Homo sapiens: one gene and its partners. The protein of the gene in region 1 purifies or fractionates together with the protein of each later gene. This does not show direct contact. Each region holds a gene or a part of one and is shown on either strand. Other genes may lie near its edges.

Region 1 (3,500 bases):
GAGGCCCTCAGAAGCCCTGCAGCCAAGAGACCCAGGACATGGCCTGTGGGCTGGGGTGCACTCAACCTACTTGACCGTGAAACACTTTTTTTGACAAAAAACGTATTATTATCCTGAAAAAAACACATTTTAGGATACAGAGGCTCACGACTGAGCTTCTTCCCAGAGCACTGCATTTTAATTGGGGGACCCTATTCTGCCCCAAAGAAATTAGCCTTCACTAGGGAAAGGCAGTCTTCCAATGTCATCATGCAGGCACCAACTGCCCCCAGCTCAGTGAAGGGGCCACCATCTGTCCAGTAACTCAGGACTCACCCTTGATCCTTTCTTTTCCTAACCCTCACACATGCAAACCCTCAGCACATCAGATTGGCTCTATTTCCAAAATGTATCCTCCATCTGGCCCCTTTCCCTCCCCTCTCCCACTGCCACTCTGGCTCAAGCCCCTGGCATCTCTCTCCTGGCTTACTTACTCCATCAGCCTCTAAATTCCCTGCATCCACTCTGGCCCCACTGAAACCCACCTCCTCACCCTGTTTGTGTCCTCCTCTGTCAGTGGCAGTGATATTAACACACCTAACCCAGGGGACTGTTGGGAAGATGGCACCCTCACTCAGACAGTGTCGGGCACAGAGCAAAACTGGGACAGGTGTTAGAGGCGGCAACAGCATCTCCCTGCCTGCTTCAGACCCGTGCTGACTTCAATTTCACCCAGTGCGATTCCGCATTACTCTCGTGTATTTTCTCAAACACTTTTCATGGCTTAAAATGACCTATTTAGTTAGGAATTGTTTTATGAATGTCTGTTTCCCCTGGAGGCTCCATGAGACAGGGACCATTTCCTTCACAGTCCCTATGCCTAGCACGGGGCCTTCCAGGAGCAGGTACCCAGCACGTGCTTATCGAATGAATTAAGGAAAGTACCCAGCATATGCTTATGGAATGAATGAATGAAAGTACCATCCACTTTGCTGATGGGTGCTCACGCGCCTCCACATTAAGATTCCATGTCCCGCCACTTAACGCACAGCATTAACACCTGCCATGAGGACTGCCAACCCCCTGCACTCCTGCTGCCCTTCCCTGCTCCACACCCAGAGCTCCACACTCAGCTCCGGACAGCTACGGACAACTGACTGGAGTTGCTGCAATGTATACACCTATCTGTGGCCAGGCACGGTGGCTCACACATGTAATCCCAGCACTTTGGGAGGCTGAGGCAGGCAGATCACCTGAGGTCAGGAGTTCAAGACCAGCCTGACCAGCATGGCGAAACCCCGTCTCCACTAAAAATACAAAAATTAGCCGGGCATGGTGGCACACGCCTGTAATCCCAGCTACTCGGGAGGCTGAGGCAAAAGAATTGCTTGAGCCCAGGAGACAGAGGTTGCAGTAAGCCAAGATCACACCACTGCACTCCAGCCTGGCCAACAGACCAAGACTTTCTGTCTCAAAAAAAAAAAAAAAAAAAAAGCAGATCTGCTCTTCCTGACCTACCATGTGCATGGTAGTGAGCAAGGTCAGAAGAGGGATATCAGGCCGGGAACAGTGGCTCATGTCTGTAATCCCAGCACTTTGGGAGGCCGAGGTGGGCGGATCACTTGAGGTCTGGAGTTCAAGATCAGCCTGGCCAACATGGTGAAACCCTGTCTCTACTAAAACTGCAAAAATTAGCTGGGTGTGGTGGCAGGTGTCTGTAATCCCAGCTACTCGGGAGGCTGAGGCAGGAGAATCGCTTGAACCCAGGAGGCGGAGGTTGCAGTGAGCCAAGATAGCGCCACTGCACTCCAGCCTGGGCAACAGAGTGAGACTCTATCTCAAAAAAAAGAAGAAGGATATCAATATTCTTTCACGAAACATTGTTGTTAGCGCCTACCTCATGCACATTGCCACGCTGACACTATACTTATTTGAGAGCTCCAAGAATGCAGGGATTTTTATCTGTTTGGTTCACCACAGGATCTCCACCACCTAGAGCATTGCCTGGCATAAAGTAGGCCCTCAAGAAATATTTGTTGCTTTTGAATAAATGATCAGACACTCCTAGTACCTATCATGGGCCAAGGCTGAGGCAGGTGCTATTGCAACACTTATTAGCCACTTGTCTGTGTGACACACTGAGCTTGGGGCTCACAGGACTGCAAAAGGCCCTTTCAACAAATACTTAGTACTAGACTAGAAGTTCCATGAAAGCTGGTACCACGTCTTTTTTTTTTCCCCCCCTCTCTCTCTTTGCTGTGCCCCCGGCTCCTGGCACTTGGTAAGTATTCCATAAACCCTTTCTGAATCTATGAAGGGAAGGATGGATGAAGGAAGAGATGGAGGGATGGGAGGGCAGAGGGATGGCTGGTGACAGCACTGATCTCAGGGGGTCGGAGGCTGCCCCTGACCCTTCCCAGGAGGCCCCAGTCTGGTACCTTGAGGTCCAGGTGCAAAACCCTCATCTTGTGCATGAAGAGGATCCCGTCACAGATCTGCCTGACAAACACCATGGTGTCCACCTCGGTCAGATGGTAGTCCTCATCCACAATCCTCTCGAAGAGCTCTCCGCCCTCGATGCTGTGTGCACAGACCCCTCCACGGCTTGCTCCGTGCCTGGTGGTACCCCCACCCAGCCCCTACCACTACTTCGGGCACTCACTACTCCATGAACAGGACGATCTCATGCGGAGTCTCGATGGCTGCATACAGCTGGATCAGATTGCGGTGGTTCAGCTGGTTCATGACCTCAATCTCCAGCAACACCATTTCCTGGGGACCAGGGAAGTCAAGGGTACCAGCTGGGCACCATCACTCCCTGCCACCCACCCTCCATACCCGCACCCTTGAACAGGCCTGCTAGCCTTGCCCAGATCACTGCTCAGCCTCCTCCTTGCCTCTCCTCTCTCCCCCACCCCCACATCTGTGGTCCTCACCACTCCCAAGTCATGCCTGCTGGGACATCTTCCTTTTGCCGGCTCTTCTCCTGAGTACTGACATGCCAAGATCTCCATCCTCCCCCCTCACCGCTTCCCTCTCTCTGCTCTCTCCCTGGGCATCTGCATAAAGTCTCATGACTTTACATTTTATCCAAAGTCATCAATTTCCAAATATACATCTCAACCTCTGAGCACTCCATTGAATTCTAGACTCCAATATCTCCAACTGTCTACTTGCCTTAGTTGTCTAATAGACATCTCAAATCTATCATGTCCAAAATTAGACCTTAGACATCGTCCCTTCCCCACAATTGAGTTGCTCTCGGCTTGCCTGGCAGCAAAAGTACCCCCACGCTTCACCCAAGGGTGCAGGACAAAAAGTTACGAGCCATCCTAAGTTCTTCCCTTACTCTCGCGCCCTCACACCCCACCTCCGACCCAACTCTTCAGCATCATCTACCTTCAAGCTAGATTATACATCCAATCATTCGCACCTCCTCCACCACTGCCTTCCTAGTTTAAGACACCATTATTTGTCACTTTCAGAAAGTCGCAAGCCAGCTGTCACATCGGTAGGCTGAT
Region 2 (3,500 bases), on another chromosome or scaffold:
CTTAAGCTTGTATCATAGAATTATGCTATTGCAAGTGTTGATAGAGCAATGTAAATATTGAAAGTAAGCACAACTGGAATTATACCCGTCAGTGAACTCTTGATAGGTTAGCAGTACGCTATGTTTCTAACACAGACAGTGAGCAATTTTGATGGTGATCCCTGGGCTTGATTCTTGGTTTTGCAAACTTTGTAATTAGGGATTCTTATTTCATTTGTCTTAAGTAATAGCAAATGTAAAAGATGGGAAAATGAGAAAGCAGCTTTTATGTATTAGAATGTGAAAAAGATTATGAATGCATAAAGCTATACAAATAGACTTACACCTATAATATACACAAACTATAAGTCTTCTCCCTGCCTACAAATGCCTTACAAAAGAGTCATTCTTGGATTTCCTGTTTGCAGTCATAGCTAATTTTTGTTTGGTAACTACTGCCATGGTAACCAAAATTATGATTTTAAAAGAATTGTTTATTAAATCATTAATATACAGGAAATTATTTTACTTTTTACAAGGTGGTGGTATCCAGAGAAATTATATTATTAATTATGAAATCAACTTTTTCTAGGAGAGGAAGATAAGGAAACAAAAGACTAATCAAAAACATTGCAAAACTGCAGATTTTCAGGATTTTAAAGAAAAATAATTTGGTAATTGATAACTTCACTACTGTTCTTTGAGTAAATATCCATGTTTAAAATTTGCCTCAAGCACTATTAGAGGATTAAATTTAGAGGTTATGCTTTTCAACTGCCCAACTACAATCTTTGACTCTCCTACAAAAGAGCTGCCATTTAGCATGGTTTTGTCAATTTTCAGTTCTAAGTGCCCTGTCTACCTAACATTCTAGTTAGATAATGGGGAATTAGAGCGATAAGGATATGCATGACTATAATTTTCTAAGTATCACTGTATTTATTTTGGTCAAATTCAAAAAAGTAAAAAAGCATAGTTTAGAATTGCCAATTTCTCTGTTCCTTAGTCTGTTAGAATGGTGGGGAGTCGGCTCAGATTTGAGCATGGCTTAAAGTGGGAGAGCGTTATTAGAAGCCAGCCTAGTGGGGATTGCTGAGATCTCATCTGCTGAATGACAGCAAAGTTACTACTCTGTAAATATACTTAATCTGAAATGCTGAATTATCCTCAAACCATGAGTGATTCAGCTTGTGTTTATCATTGTGACATTCTGGCCACTGTGAAAAGCTGTAAACAGGAGTTTCAGGGTGTTCATTGCATAGCTTATCTGAGCAGCGAGCCCAGCAGAAAAGATGGCATTCAGCCCAGCAGAAATGCCTTGATAAGGAGTCCATTAATGCATCTCTAGCCACAATGAACTTTTCCCTTGCTTTGTTTGATGATAAAGTGATATCATGTTTCATTGAAAAATGACCATGTAGATGTTAGGTGGATTTTTGTTTTTATATGACCACAACGTGACAGTCTTAACAGAATGAGTCACAAAGTAAGGATCAAGGATCTGATTTTTCCTTTATGAGATACTGGCCTACAATAAAAATAACTGGGGGTTAAAAAAATTACCCTTTGTTTTTCGTAGAGAATATTAAAAGTGCAGTTTAGATTTAAAACTACAGACTCTAAACTCCATATCTATCAGTATCACCTCTTGAGCAAAATACCGATGTCACCTTTGATAGATTTTTTTTTAAAAAAGGAAGGAAGATGAGTGAGCAAAACAGATGTGTAAGTTAACTACAGTGCTGGATAGAATGACATAAGTGCTATAATACAATTTCTTATCTGGGATGAGGAACCTTTTTATAAACAAAAATTAATCATTGGTTGATATTTTTAAAAACACAATAAAAATTTATTACTTAAAAGACAAATACAGGGCCAATTAAAAAAATTATTAAATGCAAGAGACACAAAATTACTTTAAGTATATAGTAGTTCCTAATTGCCTACTGTCAGTTTCTCTGCCTATCTCATCACAGACTAGTGACTTACACTTTGTGAACTGCCACTTTGAGTAGCACAGCAATAATAGAAATACAAACAACTGTTATGAAGTCTTAGAAGCAGAAGTAACTAACTTTAATTGTGTGGGTTGCGATTATTTTATCAAGGAAACACCTCCTATAGAATAAAGAAGCTTTCATTAGGCAAAGAAAGCATTCCATAAAGAGGAAATAGCATGAACCAAAGGTACCTGGCTGTGAAAAGTCAGTAAAACCACCCTTGACATTTTCAGTTTTGTCTCTTCTAAAATAAAGCTAAAGTAGATGAGCTGCAGTAATTTGTAATTTTTCCACAGTACAGGTTTGAATTAAAGAGGTATGTCACTGAGCTAGTATAAGACCCTAGCCCACAGCTGAAGAGTTTCTGATCTCCCTTAACTGTGATGATTATTTAATACATTGTGTCATCTATTGAGAGAGAGGAGGAAATTTCACAGTAGAGTCTAGCTCATTTAGGCTGGTCTGGACTCTGAGCTGTGGACTGGGACCACAATGTTGCCAGGTTTTCATCCTTCTTAGATCAGTGAAGCCAACAGTAAAGGTCATGCCCAACTGCAGGAGCACCTTTTAAGCCTCTTCTTATGCCAAAGCAGTCACATGTCCAGTTCTGAAGTCAAGGAGAGAAGTCCAGTCTAGCAACTATGAGGCTAGGGCAGGGATATGATGTTGAATACTATTACGTGGGAATGAAGGATTGGGACCATTACTTCAGTCTACCACGTGTGCTATAGAGGGACAGTTGAATGTAGGGGCTTGAGGATACTTTTCTGAAGATCTTTCATGTATCAAGAGTATTCTGAGATGATATTCTGTATGGTATCAGACTACACGTTTCAAAGCAGAGTAGTTTTTGGTCATTCTGAAAAACTGTAGAGGAAAGTTAACTTTGCAGTATCCCTTACTTGATATTTAGGGTTTCCTTTTTTTAATCTGGTCACTCTTCTGTTAGCTTTGAAACATAGGCCTCTCCAAATTCATTCCAGCCGGGTCATGTGACTTCCGTGTTAAACGAAGACATGTAAAACTCATTTCTTTGGGAAATGGCAAGTTGCCTAAGGTTTTGAAGGGGAATTACAAAATATTACCTTTTATATACTGCAACAAATGGAAAATATATTCTGTGAACATTCCAATAATATGTGTTAGACTCTATCTTTGGTAATGGAATAGAAGGTTATCCCAAGATAATTGGCAGAATTTAAAGGTAAAAAGAGGCAAGACAGATTTCAGTGGCCTAACTCCACAGCTCTTTTAAGATGTCCCAGGTAAACCAGTAGTGATGTTATTCATTGTTACTTTCTCATGGACCAGATAAAATTAAGCCAGAGGGTAGGATCATCCTGTGGACCACTGTTGCCCACTTTTCTCTAACAGTTAGGGAATTTAAAGGAAGCAGCGCAGACTTTGACTTTTCCAGACATAGATTTGGATCCCACCTTTGATATTTACTCAGTAATTTGGCAACAGTTGCTCCTTGGTTTCAGAGATCTAATCTGCAAAACATGGATAGTACTTCTT
Region 3 (3,500 bases), 2.2 Mb from region 1:
CCCCTGCTCATTCTTCCCTCTTTCCCCCAGGACCAGAACCCCTGGGAAGGAGAGAACAGGAAGTTCACAGTGGGGGCAACCAGCTCAGGCTGCCCATTCCCCTGTTGGCCTCCTGAGAGTAGGAGCACAGTCGAGTCCCAGTCGTGCCCCTGGCCAGGCCCTCACCAGCTCTTCCTCGCTGTGTGTCAGGAGCCCTTCCTCATCGCCGTCGTCTCGGGTCCGTGCTTCCCCCTGGGGCAGGCCTGCCTCAGAAGTTGTGTTCTCTTGGGGGGCTGGTGGCCGGCTGCTGCCACCGCCACCGCCACCACCACTGCCACCGCCACCGCTGCCACCACCACCGCCGCCGCCGCCGGCGCCACCTCCATCACCCTTCTTCTTGCCATCTTGAGGGGAAGGGGTGGAGGAGGGGAGAATAAAACTCAGCCTGGGGTAGCTGTCTAGGGCAGCACCTTAGCGGAAGCTGGCCTCAGCATGGTGAGTGCAGGTGGTCCAGGATCTGCAGGGCCACCCTAGCTCCTCTCTCCCATGTACTATTTCCCCATGCTCTGCCCTGTGCCCTGGTCATGGAGGTGGGTGAGAATCCTCAGAGGCTGACCTGGATTGGCCTTTTGCTCCGCAGCGATCTGCTCCAAGCGGCTCAGCAGGGCATCGATATTGGACTTGATCTGTGTCAGCTCCGTCTTGATGGCCTGCAGCTCACTGCTCTTTACTGGGAGTGGAGGGGGGACAGGGCTGTCACCTAGGGGGCTGGAGGCTTGACACTAGCACAAAACCTCAGCCCTGTTCTTTCAACCAGGAAAGCAGTTATTTTTTGTTTTGTTTTGTTTTTTCCCTGCTTAGGAAAAAGGTCTCCTCCTTAGACTACCTGGCGTCCATCCCTACAGTGACAGCACACACTTCTGAACCTGGCTATCTTTTCTCCTGATCTCTCAACTCTGAAAGGGACCAAAGACAGACAGGAGCACAGGTGTGTATGTGTGGTGTGCTCTTCTGTGTGCACCTGAGCAAGAACATGTGTCTTTTGGAATCTGAATTCCTGGGTGATTAGTTAAGCAGCATGTGTGTACCAGAGTGAATGTGGAGTAATGGGCCTGGGTAGACCTGTCCTTATCCTTACTAGAGGAAAGATGGCACCATTTCTTCACTGGGCACCATATCCAGCACTGGACTCTCTGTGCCCAACACAACCCCTCCTCCTAAAACATCAGCTGTTTCCTCTTAGAAATGCATGAAAATACTTGGCTGTGTTAGAGCAGCAGAACTGTGGAAGACTTGTTGTTTTATCTATGTTCCAATGTAAAAAATGTGATTCTATTATTTTGCTAATGATAAAAATGCAAATTACTTAGGAATATGATACAGTCACTCACACTTGATCTTGGCTGAGCTGGTGGTGACAGCTGTGGAGCGGGCAAAGAGCTTGACAGGTACGTTAGTTTTGACACGCCGGACCAAAGGGACTGTGACCCGGGGTCGCTTCACAGGGACCGCCCTGGGCACTGGCACGGGCGACAGACGGCCCCGGTAGTCGAAGAGCCTGTGAGGGCAGATGGGCCAGAGGCTGCAGCATGGCTTGTGGCCACCAGGGCGGTATTGCAGCTCCGGCTACAAACGTGTGTGGCTGGTGAGGGGCTGGGAGGCCTGCACTACACACCTCTGCTGGCTCCTAGCAAGCCCTGGAGTGAAGAGGAAGGGCTTGCCGGACCCTGATGGCTGTTGGGATCCTCACTACCTCACTACAACCTCTCCAACCATCCAGGCCCAGTAAGGGCAGGCAAGGCATCAGGTGGTAGCAGTTATACCCCATTCAAAAGAGGAGACATCCCTAGGTCCCCTGGCACCCAGGCCTGCTCTATTACATGACCTGGCTTCTGCTTGGTCAACTGCCACCCCAACCTCTGCTCAGAGTTTGCAAATCTCAAAGCAGCACAAATCCCCAGCTAGGAATAGAGAGGTATGGGAGTGGGGGTCAACTGAGCCTACCTGAGCCTCAGTTTCCCCATATGCCAAATGAGGATGGCTATCCACATTCAGTGTCCACCCAAGGGCACAGCATGAAAGAATTCGGTTAAAAACACACTTTAGAACGTGTAATAGATGAAAGGTCAGGGTACTGAGACCCTCAATTCACGAACCCATGACCTCAGAGGCATAAGACTGAACTCTAAGCCCTTTCCTTACTTGACCTCCTTAATCACCACATCCTTCGTGCTCCATTCCAGAGACAAAGGCCAGGGGCTTGGTAGAGTATCAAGGTTGGGCAGCTCAATCAGACCCCCCCAGGGCTCCCAGGCTGTGCACTGCCCCCAACCAAAGTCATCTCCAAGCCCTCTCTAGGAGGGCTTCCTTTCCAGCTGACCAGGCAGAAACTCAGTAGGCTGAGAAGTGGTCTCTCTGACATCTGTTGCTGCCACCTTTTTCAGGGAATCGCAGCCCAGGGGGTAAACTTTGGGTCAATTTTCCTGACAACGGCCAGGAAACCTGCCATCACTGGGCAAAAGCCCCATTCCTTGGGGCTCCTTTGTTCAGGGAGCCCCTTCCTGGAGGTGGTGATGGCTGCAGATGGAGAGTCTCTGGGAATGGATCCGATCCCAGACCCTGCATTTCTGCCCCCAAGGGGAGGGAACGGCTCTGGCCTTGGTCAGAATCACTGAACCACAGAATCCCAGAGCTGGAGGAGCCTGGAGAGATCACTTGGTGCAAGCCCATTTCACAAACTGGGAAGGGAATTTGCCCAAGATCACATAATCCATTCAGTGGCAGAGCTGAGATTAGCATCTAAATCTTCTGACCCCCAGGCTAAGACACTTTCCACTACACCACACTGTCTCCTGAAACGACTCACAGGGGCGGGGTGGGGATGGGGGCGGACGACTCATGCTCAGAGAGGCACTGTTCTTCTTGGGCTGCCTGGGGTGGGCTAAGCTGGACAGAGGGAGAGAAGCAGGGAGGAGGAGAGATTTGAGTTAGTATCTACCATGATTTCTACTCAAGAATGTGGCTAGTGCTGTTGTAGTGGGAGCCCACAGCCTCTGGGCTGGAGTCTGGGTAGGGCTTGGGAGTGCAGGGTAGACCACAGCCCGCCAGGGACTAATTAGACTTCCAAATGGCTGCTGGCCTCTTGTCTCTAAATATAAACCCAAGAAGCTTAGACTGAGCTCTGGGGCTCCTACCAGCTGCTTGGGCACCTCACAGAGGGAAGGGCTCAAACTCCCTGCAACCAGCGCTGTACCCTGTTGTGTATTCCAACTAGCCACACTTACATAGCTCTTGGCTGTACGGTCTCCTTGAGCCTCACCCAAGGACAAGAAGGAAAAAGGGCAGTTAGCATGGCAGACAGTGTTGTATGGTGGTAGGAGCTCTGGCCTGAGCACCTGCAGCACAGGACCCCAGTCTCAGCTCTGCTACCGACTGGTGGAGCAACCCCAGGCAAACCTCTGGGTTTTGGTTCTCATTTGGAGAACTCAGTGGGCTGCACCAACAATCTCTCAAGACCCTTC
Region 4 (3,500 bases), on another chromosome or scaffold:
GAAGCAGGAACAAAGTGCCATCACAAACACTGCTCTCTGTACCTCGGCTCCCCCGAGAGTGGACATCACAGCCTATTGGGGAATTGGGTAAGAACCATGACCCCCAGGTCCCAACTAGACAGAGTGTAGGCAGCCCCACTCACCATCCTTGGTCACAGCATACCCCACAGAGGCCCCACAAGCCACCGAGGAGACAGCAGGCAGCCTGGAGATGAGGGTGGGTATGCTCTTCTCCTCAGCACCCTCTCCAAGGCCCAGCCGCCCATACTCAGCCCGGCCCAGGCTGTATGCTTTTCCTATGGGAGGAGGGAGAGAGATGAGCAATAGCAGAGGGCGTGCTACAGGCAAAATGGGTGGCAGGCTAGGTGAGTCCACCTGTCCATGGGAGTGTGTCCCTGCTCCCAGAGCGATCAGAAGGAGATCTGCAGTGTCTCTTCCCAGTTTTGGAGGAGGCCTAGGAGAATCTACATGGGCCCCCATTGAACTCACACTTGGAAGAACACCAGGACTCTAGGAGGATGAGAGTGACTCTCATGGACCCATGTATGGTACAACCCATGGAACAGACCCAGGCTCCAAGGACCATGGTCTCAGGAATCTGGCTAGGCCTAGGCCAGGGAACACTCCACCCCCAAACTAGAGAAGGACGTAAAGGCCCTACCTTCCGAATCCATGCAGACTGTATGGTGCTGGCCACCAGAGAAGCCCACCCAGGACTTGGTGGAATTCTTGAAGGATGTTAGGTTCTGGGGTATGAAGCAAGATTCTGTGCCCGGAGTTCCTGGGGGAAAGGCCGGAGCCATCAGGGGTGAAGGTGTTCTGAGAGCTGCCCTTCTCAATCTCCTCCCACAGTGAGGCCACCTCCCATCAGGATATGGACATTCTCACTTTACAGATGACAAAACTGGCTTGGAGGGGTTAGACGACCCCGCAAAGGATGCACAATGAATGAGTGGCAGAGCCAGGACAGGAACGCAGGCCACTGGGTCATGCCTGAAGCTGGGCTCGGGGCTCACCAAGCTGATGGTAGTTGGAGAGGCCGAAGCCGTACACGTGGCCCTCATGGGAGATGGCAAAGGTGAAATAGGCACCACAAAAGGCATCCTGGAATCTCACGTGGCCCCGGCTTCCCCTGGATTTCAGCATCACACACTTGGGGACCAGGAGTCGTTCTGCAGGCAAAGGGAAAGCCACGGTCAGTGACAGACAGACACACATGGCTTCTCTCTGCCCCGAGTTTAATTCTCCTCCATTATAAAAGCCCTTGAGAGGCTAAGTAGGGACTCTTATCCCTATTTTATAGAAAAGGAAACTGAGATCAAGAGAATACAAGTGCCTTGCTCAGATTCCCACAGTCATTACGGGTATCATTTACGTGGAACTTACCATCTGCCTGATATTCTTCTCATTAACTCATTTAACTTCACAGCAACCTAATGAAGTAGGTTTACAGGTAGGTAGACTTAGTGATGAAGAAACTATGTTCAGAGTCCCATAGACAGTAGGTGGCAAAACTACCAGAGCAGTCTGTCTCCAAAGTCCTAACCAACACCACAAGCCCATCTGATGCAAGCCTGACCACAGCAAATCCTTCCTGCCTTTGGCCTTCACTGTGGGGGTGGCCTGCCAATTTGCCCTGCTGGAGGTACCAAGGCCACTTACCGAGGCCTTGCCGGCCACCACGGTTGGCAAATAACTCAGGCACACGGCCTAGCTGGCCCTGTTCCCCGCAGCCCAAGGTGTAGAGGTCACCATCAGCTGTCAGCATCACCAAGTGGTCGTTTCCTAAGGATGAAAAGGTAAGGGATGCAGGCCACAACTGTAAGGCCCAAGGCTAGGCCAGCCCCAGAACAAGGTCCTCCAACTCCTGCCCTGAGCAAGTGCCCCCAGACCCACCTGAGGCCACCTTTACCACAGGCACATCCAGCTGCACCTGCACAGGCACCATGCTCTTCTTCATGGGCTCCAACAGTCCAATCACACCGTTATTGTCCTAGAAGGGAGGGACAGGGCACTTATCAGCCAGTCCTGCCTGCCCCGTGCCAGTGAAATCCAGAAGGGCAGTGGCACCAGATGGGGATGGAGAAGTGGGCAGGAGCCAGGCCACATACTCAAATACTTATGAATGAAATCATTTATGGTCTGCGACTTGCATTAAAATAATCAAGGAGTCAGAGAGCGGATGCAAATAGAGATAAACAAGTCTGGCCACAAGCTGATAATCATTGAAACTGTGTGGCAAGTAAATGGGCACTCAATATACTATTCTGGGCCAGGCATGGTAATTCATGCCAGTAATCCTAGCACTTTGGTAGGCCCAGGTGGGCAGATCGCTTGAGCTCAGGACCAGCTTGGGCAACACGGTGAAACCCCGTCCCTACAAAAAATACAAAAATTAGCTGGGCGTGGTGGCACAAGCCTCTAGTACCAGCTACTTGCGAGGCTGAGGTGGAAGAAATCACCTGAGCCCAGGAAGTTGAGGCTGTAATGAGCTAAGACGATGCCATTGCACTCTGGCCTGGGTGACAGAGCAGGATCTCGTCTCTAATTAAAAAAGAAAAGAGGCCGGGCGCGGTGGCTCATGCCTGTAATCCCAGCACTTTGGGAGGCCAAGGCGGGCGATCACGAGGTCAGGAGATCGAGACCATTCCGGCTAACACGGTGAAATGCCGTCTCTACCAAAAAATACAAAAAATTAGCCGGGCGTTGTAGCGGGCGCCTGTAGTCCCAGCTACTCGGGAGACAGAGGCAGGAGAATGGCGTGAATCAGGGAGGCAGAGCTTGCAGTGAGCCGAGATCGCGCCACTGCACTCCAGCCTGGGCGACAAAGCGAGACTCCGTCTCAAAACAAAGAAAAAAGAAAAGAGGCCAGACGTGGCGGCTCAAGCCTGCAATCCAGCACTCTGGGAGGCCCAGACGGGCGGATCACCTGAGATCAGAAATTCACAACCAGCCTGGCCAACATGGTGAAACCCCGTCTCTACTAAAAATACAAAAATTAACCAGGTGTGGTGGCGCATGCCTGTAATCCCAGCTACTCGGGAGGCTGAGGAAGGAGAATTGCTTGAGCCCGAGAGGCAGAGGTTGCACTGAGCCGAGATTGTGTCATTGCACTCCAACCTGGGTGATAGAGCAAGACTCTGTCTCAAAAAAAAAAAAAAAAAAAAAAAAAAAAAAAAAAAAAAAAAAAAAAAAAAGAAAAGAAAAGAAAAGAAAAAAATATAATTCTGATATTCTGATTACTTCCTTTTTTTTTTTTTTTTTTTTTTTTTGAGACAGAGTTTCGCTCTTGTTGCCCAGGCTGGAGTGCAATGGCGCGATCTCGGCTCACTGCAACCTCCGCCTCCCAGGTTCAAACAATTCTCCTGCCTCAGCCTCCCGAGTAGCTGGGATTACAGGCATGCACCACCATGTCCAGCTAATTTTGTAATTTTAATAGAGACAGGGTTTCTCCATGTTGGTCAGGCCGGTCTCGAACTCCCGACCCCTCAGGTGATCAG

What was found.
Region 2: the proteins of MYLK2 (region 1) and TES purify together in Homo sapiens (affinity purification with mass spectrometry; one large-scale study listed by BioGRID and IntAct). This does not show direct contact.
Region 3: the proteins of MYLK2 (region 1) and RALY purify together in Homo sapiens (affinity purification with mass spectrometry; one large-scale study listed by BioGRID and IntAct). This does not show direct contact.
Region 4: the proteins of MYLK2 (region 1) and RCC1 purify together in Homo sapiens (affinity purification with mass spectrometry; one large-scale study listed by BioGRID and IntAct). This does not show direct contact.

Annotation. Positions count from the first base shown.
Region 1 is NC_000020.11:31,825,856-31,829,355, reverse strand, and holds part of MYLK2 (myosin light chain kinase 2, skeletal/cardiac muscle), read right to left. Parts: intron 2,752-3,500; coding exon 2,642-2,751; intron 2,560-2,641; coding exon 2,418-2,559; intron 1-2,417. UniProt on the Homo sapiens protein: Implicated in the level of global muscle contraction and cardiac function. Phosphorylates a specific serine in the N-terminus of a myosin light chain.
Region 2 is NC_000007.14:116,217,039-116,220,538, forward strand, and holds part of TES (testin), read left to right. Parts: intron 1-3,500. UniProt on the Homo sapiens protein: Scaffold protein that may play a role in cell adhesion, cell spreading and in the reorganization of the actin cytoskeleton. Plays a role in the regulation of cell proliferation. May act as a tumor suppressor. Inhibits tumor cell growth.
Region 3 is NC_000020.11:34,073,911-34,077,410, reverse strand, and holds part of RALY (RNA-binding protein Raly), read right to left. Parts: intron 1,538-3,500; coding exon 1,371-1,537; intron 710-1,370; coding exon 596-709; intron 384-595; coding exon 166-383; intron 1-165. UniProt on the Homo sapiens protein: RNA-binding protein that acts as a transcriptional cofactor for cholesterol biosynthetic genes in the liver. Binds the lipid-responsive non-coding RNA LeXis and is required for LeXis-mediated effect on cholesterogenesis.
Region 4 is NC_000001.11:28,533,543-28,537,042, reverse strand, and holds part of RCC1 (regulator of chromosome condensation), read right to left. Parts: intron 1,994-3,500; coding exon 1,897-1,993; intron 1,786-1,896; coding exon 1,663-1,785; intron 1,173-1,662; coding exon 1,017-1,172; intron 782-1,016; coding exon 662-781; intron 297-661; coding exon 144-296; intron 1-143. UniProt on the Homo sapiens protein: Guanine-nucleotide releasing factor that promotes the exchange of Ran-bound GDP by GTP, and thereby plays an important role in RAN-mediated functions in nuclear import and mitosis.